2 linked regions of the Homo sapiens genome follow. The protein of the gene in region 2 interacts with the protein of the main gene of each other region in a pairwise test. Each region holds a gene or a part of one and is shown on either strand. Other genes may lie near its edges.

Region 1 (3,829 bases), on a different chromosome or scaffold from region 2:
CCCGTATCTGAAATACTCCAGGGATCCATGTTTCTTTCAATAGTCAGATTAAGCATTCCCCAATCCAATCCCCAGATATCTTTGAACAAAATCAATAAAAATCAGTAAAAACAGGAATATATATATATATATATATATATATATATATAGACACACACACACACACACACACACATGCATATACACACACATGCATGGAGGACCATACTAAGGCCTTTTTCAGGTCAAAAAGGGTTTTCACATTGACCTTTTTTACTTTTAAGTATTTTTCCTCAGAATGTTCCTTCAGTTAAAAATCAGGTTTAATCTGGAGCTCTTACTGATTTTTCTTTGATTCCTACTGAACACCTAGCTACTGGCCATGGTTTCTTTGAGGAAAAAAACACCATTGCTGAAGCATTTCTAAACATTTTTAATGCATGCAGAAAGAACTACATAGACTCTCCAAGCAGCTATATAAGGTGGCTCAAGTAACATTATGATTTATTTTGGTCTAAGCCCTTTCATAACGTCCTTTTAAAATACAAAGAGAATGGCTACGAAATGGTGCCAGAACCCAGAAGGCCCAGCTGGACTGACAGGAGCTCTGAGCAGTTCATAGGACAAGCAGGGACCCGCCGAACCTCTCCCGTTTCTGTGCTTTCTCTAAATGCAGCAGGTCCTCTCTTTACTGCCCATGCTTTTAAACTATGAAAAAAAATTTTTTAAAGAAATCTAGCAGTGATTAATGGAGACCTCAAATAACACTGTACATGGGCTTTGTTAGAGACAGGTAATCATTCTTAACAGCTCTTTTCCCAGAGGAGGCCTGGGTGGGCCGAGAGGCATCCAGAGTTTAGGAAGTGCTTTTATTGCAGACTGCACCTTGGCTAATACTATCCTCTATGTACTGGCTGCCTGTGTCACTCCTGCTGAGGACTGTGGAGGGGATGCGAGAGGGACGCCTCTCTGGGTTCTCCTGAGAGAAGCAGCAGATCATCTTCTTCATGGTGCCATACATGTCCTCGTCCTTGTAGGAGTAGATGATGGGGTTCACGACGGAGTTGAGCAGCGCCAGCAGCAGGAACCACCTTTTCACATGCTGCACGCCACACTGCCTGCAGTTCAGGCCGTCGAGGAGCAGAACCACCAGGCCCGGGGTCCAGCATACCACAAACGCCCCTGCAAGGAGAGAAGAGGAGGCAACAGATGCTCAGACCTTAGGGGACTTATTCAGGTTTTCTTCTCTCCCAGCCTTTAGCCAGTGGCATCAAGGGGCCCTCATGATTTGTTTTGACAACTGCAAGGCAAACTTCCACCTACCATCTGAGCATTTGAGACCTACGCTTGGTACAGGCAAATAGGTGGGAACCTCCTTGACTATCAATCACATTTCATTTCACTTTCTTTTCTGCTTACCCAGGTCTTGTGATTATGAGAGACTCACATTTACATTCTGCTTAGGAGGCAGTGCACATGCATGATCTCCGTTAGTTCTCTGAACCACACTGGGAGGCTTTGTTGCACTCATTATCCACATTGGACAGATAAGAAAACCAAGGCCCAATTCTAGGGGGAGATGAGAGGAGAACTCTCTGACTCCAGGGCTCCCATACTTCACCCTACATTCTGCTGTTACAGAAATCAGATTTTCTAAATGTGCTCTTGAAAATAAGACACAATGAGTCTACGGCATTCTTCTAGTAGTTTAACCAAATCACCTGCTCATAAATTTCATTCTTCATAAATTCATGTGGATGCTTAGTAAGCACTATATTCTTTTTGACATATTCACGGGCCATCTGCATAATCATCTGCTCTACATTTAGATTTTTTGGTCAGAAATAAATCTTTCATGATGAGATAGTTAAAAATCTACTTTTCAGACTCTGCAATTGAATATGAACCGTAGTCTCTTCTGAGTCTCTAGCCACAGCATCATACTTACCTTATCTCTAAATTTCATGATATTTTTCTCCCATTAAGACATGGGTCCACTATTTCCCTACTATTATCATAACCTCAGATAGCAATAACGACTCATCTTTATACAGCACTTACTATAAGCGAGGCACTGGTGCAAACGCTTTCCTTGATTAACTCACAGGACCACACTATGACATTGGCATTATTATTATCCCCAGGAAACCGAGGCACAAGAGAAGTTAAGTAACTTGCCTATGATCAAATAACTCTTAAGAGACACGATTTTGAACAGAGGCCGTCTTTCTCCACAGGCTGTGCCCTGGGCCACTATATGACCCGCCTCTGTAGTATGATGTGGTTGCTTTCGGCGAATGTCCTTGTCATTTCTAAATGCACTTGCTTGTCCACTCATAAATATTCATCTGAAGCTAACAATGTGCCAGGAGCTGTACTAGACAGTGAGTGAGGTGAAGGCCACGCACTCAGGGAGCTAAAATACTAACAGAGAAGACGACAAACAAGCAAGTCTATAGATGATATCACCAACTACTCTACTTGTTAGAATTAGTTCTGCATAGTATTTCTCTTGTTGCTTTATCTTACTTCTAAGAGATATAATACCAAGCAGGGAAAGACAAGGATTATAAAGAGGCAGTGTAAGGCAGGGAAGAGCCACGAACTTTGGGGTCAGACATGTATGCACAGCTCAACCTATGAGTGACCCGAATTATGGGAATTACTTCACTTTTCTCAGCCTCCATTCCCTCCTTTATACAATAAAGTTAATAAACCCAACTATGTGAGGTGGTAGTTGTGAGGATCAGAGGTCATGGAAAGTGGTACCCAACACTGTGGTGGGTTCACTGAGCAGCAGTTATCATGAGGTGCTCTGTTTCCACAAAAAATATCTATATGTTTAGTAGCTAGCAGGGGGGTTGAATTCCTTATTTCATAATTACGGTTCAGCAGTGGTTCCCTTTTTTCTCCACCTTGTATTATTATTTTCGGTCTGGCTGATATATGTGAATAAAGAACTGGACTTGGAGATAAGAGATCAGAGATTTGGGTTCTAATTCTTCACTTACTGTACAACTCTGGGAGACCCATGTCATTGCGCTGGGCTCAGCTTCCTCAGCTGTAAACTGAGGACTGACTTTAGGCTAGGTCTGAGTTTTTCTAGTGGTGGGTCAGAACTTGTTAGTGGGTGTGCAATCAATGTGACAGATTCAGACTGGTTTTTTGTTTTATTCAGACTGGTTTGAAACAAGTGAAGGAACTGGATGGGCAGCCAAGTTTGCAACTACCAACTTGAGAATTCATATTAGTAAGTTTTTAGCCATACCACCCGATAATTGTGTCTGAGAAACAAACAAGTCAAATTTGTTTGAGTTTTATGGAGAGTTAAAAGCCACAGTTTCACAGAATTCGGCAGTTTCCTACTTGGAAAAGAGTTCAGAAGCCGCTTAGCCTGATCTTTCATTCATAGGAAAAAGGCCTTCCCTTTGTACATCTCAGAACAATCCAGGCAAAGGAAATGCCCTGGTCAAGGGAGGCTCTTCAACTGCTGAACAATGGTTTCTTCTCTTAAATAACTTCATTTAGGCTGGGCGTGGTGGCTCACATCTATAATTCCAGCACTTTGGGAGGCTGAGGTGGGTGGATCACCCAGGTCAGGAGTTCGAGACCAGCCTGGCCAACATGGTGAAACCCTGTCTCTACTAAAATGCAAAAAATTAGCTGGGCATGGTGGCAGGCACCTGTAGTCCCAGCTGCTTGGAAGACTGAGGCAGGAGGATTGTTTGAACCCAGGAGGCGAAGTTGCAGTGAACCGAGATTGTGCCACTGCACTCCAGCCTGGGCAATAGAGCAAGACTCCATCTCCAAAAAAGTAAAAAGCAAAAAAATATATAAATATCTTCATTTA
Region 2 (3,215 bases):
AACATTTTAAATGAGGAAATGAGCACTATGTTTCAGAATTCTTGTAGAAAATAATTTATTTCCAAAGAAAAAAGGCATCTTAGAAATTGTATTGTCTCTGACATTTATTCATTCAACAAACATAAGACTGCCTGCTATATGTCAGGCACCTGTGCTACACAAGCTACATCCTGAACTTGCTGATGACCCAAAAATTATATCTCATCTAGAAGAATCAAAGGAAAGGAACTGATCCTACTTAAACATGCCATTTTTCATGGGTATCCCAGGGAAGTTTAGAAGCATATGTATAAAGATACTTCTTGCAAAACATCAGCCTTTAATGTTTAGTGTAGGAAATTTCCTAAAAGCTATTTGCTTCAGGGTTATTTACTAATTTGGTTTCTCCAAGATGAACTAAAAACATGGGGGTGAGGGGTAAGGGTGTGTGTATAGAATTAAAATGAAATTAGAAAACCATATTTTTGTTAAATGAGTGAAATTAAGAAACTTTGCTATAGAAACTGACTCTAAAGTATACACAATTCAATCAGGTACCATATTTATTTTAATAATGCATACCTGTTAAGAGAATTTTCATTGTTCTTTGGCTAAATAGAAGACCTTTTTCCCGTGACCCTTCTCTATTTAGAATTTATGCATTTCTATATAAGAACTACCCTTGAAAACATGTATTAGTTTATAATAATGGCAAATACAGTTCTTTGGGCAAGAAAGTCTTAAATTTTGGAGCAAGCTAGTGGGTTGGTTTTTTCAGATTAGTCTTGTACAAGTAGTAATCATCATAATGAGATTTGATTTAGGGAATTATGAAGGCTTCCAGATTTGGAAATATGCTATCATGCCTGTTAAGCTTATATTATTTCAGAGTTTACCAATAATAATTGAAGGGATTTTTTTTTAAGAAACATAAGTTATCACAGATAAGTGTATGGAGGTAACAGAGAGAGGGTGGGAGAGGTCAAGGCTAGACTTTAACACCACATCACTCTCTTTCAAGCCAACACACTGACAGGCTCCTGTCAGAAAGGGTCATTCTAAGTAATTGATTAATAAAAGGAATGACTGTCTCAGGATTCAGTAAATGGAGCATCAGTGTCAAAAAGGAATCTGTTGCTGAATGAAGCCATTTGGAAGTCAGACCAAGAATATGGTATTAATGAGATTGGCATTGGAGTCTGGTTTTCTGCTATAAATTTAAAATTAATTTTGCAAGCTTTTTAATTAAATATTTACACTGTAGAATTTGGAAGTCATTATTCCTGCTGATGTTGAAAGTATTTATGTCATCACTCCAGCACAGGATGTTTCTAGTAAATATCACTCTATAAATGTGCCTGATTCTTTTTATCTTTCAAGGATCTTTGGTTTCTGCTTATTTTCTCTCCTGCCCCACCCCCAAAAGCCATCCCTCTCCTCTCAGCCCTCCCTCTTTAAGTCTTTTCTCTCTCTCTCACTTCCCCCTTCTCTCTCTCTCTCTCTCTCTCTCTGTCTCTCTGTCTCTCACAGAAACACACACACACAGATACACACAGAGTGGGCACACACACACAGTAGGTAGGGGAGAAGGGAGCTTCTTAAGCAAGAAATTTGCATCTGGGAAGTTAGAAACTGACTGGGTACTGTACTTTCATTGCTGAGAATTACTAAAAGAACCACTTAAGTTTTTGTTGACATTTGTTACTGCAATTCTATTTAAATAAATTAAGTTTCTACCAGTAGCATCTGATCTTCTCGTTTTTGCTAAATTTCATGTTTTAGGTTTGCTATAATAATGATTCACTTTTTTGTAAGACGTTAATTGATATTTAATGCACAAGCAAATCAATATCAATTGTCATTCCTTATAAGTAAAACAGAAACTTTAAATTTAAAGTTACTTTGTCTCGTGACATTAAAAACACCATTTTAAAATGTGATCATCTATGAAAGCATGTATTTTTAATGTAAAACTAATGATTTACAGTAATGGGATTCTAATGAAAGACTGTCTTTCAGACATATATGTTTACTTTAAATCTTCCATGGGAATCTTGAGTTGCCTACATCTAAATCAAGTGAAATGAATTAACATGGATATTATGATATTTTTTAAAATCAAAATGTTTTATTAATGTATTGTACAGTAACTCCTCTTTTCTTTTTCCATACTAAATATTAGTTGCAAAATGAACGGGAAAATGATCCAACTCATATACAATTAAGGGAAGAAGTATCTACATGGAATAGTAGAATTTTGAAGAGGACAGCTATTACCATATGCGGATTCGGTTTTCTTCTTTTCATTTGCAAGCTAACTTTCCAGAGGAAATAATCCAAATATTTGTTTTAAGTTATATATACACATCTTATTGAACCATCCAAAAATCATTGCTTTTAACTGTTTGCAGCACAATATAACTTTACATTCTTTGCCAATATTCCATAGGAAAAATTTTGACAATGTGGAGTTTTTTTTTAAAAAGTGGTTTGTTACTTTGACTTATAAATACAATTTGTTATGTTTATGTTAATTGTGATTAGGTAGTAAAGTATAAGTAATTTTTTGGTTTGATCGTATCTAAATCACATTCAAAATTAAAGTTATATCTAATATCTTTGACATTTTTTAAAGTGTGTTCATTTGTCAGTGAATCGTACAGGATTTGTAAAGTGTTCATAAATTGAGCTTTCTTTTGTTTCTTTTTTCCCCCTCCATTATTACATAATATGGATTTTTATTGGATTTTTTTGTTATATTACATTATGAGGAAATTATTAATTTTGAAAGTATCTGAGAGAATACAAAGGATAAAGGTAAAATGTTAAAGTTTTGAATTGTGGATTAAATCCTTAGGAAAAGTATTTTAAATACAAATTAAAACAGCAAAAAATTAGAGACTGGTGTTGAAAGTACAAAGTACATTGGAATTTTTTATGTAAAATACTTTGGGGAACATACATACTATATAACATTCTTAGGAATATTATAAAAGTGAATGGCATTTGACATATTATTTATCATATCTAAAGTAAGATTTATTTTTCAAAATCAAACTAATGATTTTCAGATTTTTAAAGTGAAGTTAATAAAATGGCAGGCCCAATTTAGCAGAGAATATAGTACTTAAATCTTGCCTGACTTAGTGCCATACTTAAACAGATGCAGTTGATCTACAGTTGTTTGAGAAGTAAACAAAGCACAGATAAAGAATTGTGGAAAGGAAGAACATTAT

What was found.
Region 1: the proteins of ASZ1 (region 2) and LPAR3 interact in binary tests that used the Homo sapiens proteins (3 or more experiments, as listed by UniProt).

The regions. Positions count from the first base shown.
Region 1 is NC_000001.11:84,813,011-84,816,839, forward strand, and holds part of LPAR3 (lysophosphatidic acid receptor 3), read right to left. Parts: intron 1,162-3,829; coding exon 836-1,161; 3' UTR 1-835. UniProt on the Homo sapiens protein: Receptor for lysophosphatidic acid (LPA), a mediator of diverse cellular activities. May play a role in the development of ovarian cancer. Seems to be coupled to the G(i)/G(o) and G(q) families of heteromeric G proteins.
Region 2 is NC_000007.14:117,362,695-117,365,909, reverse strand, and holds the end of ASZ1 (ankyrin repeat, SAM and basic leucine zipper domain-containing protein 1), read left to right. Parts: intron 1-2,161; coding exon 2,162-2,314; 3' UTR 2,315-2,688; downstream 2,689-3,215. UniProt on the Homo sapiens protein: Plays a central role during spermatogenesis by repressing transposable elements and preventing their mobilization, which is essential for the germline integrity.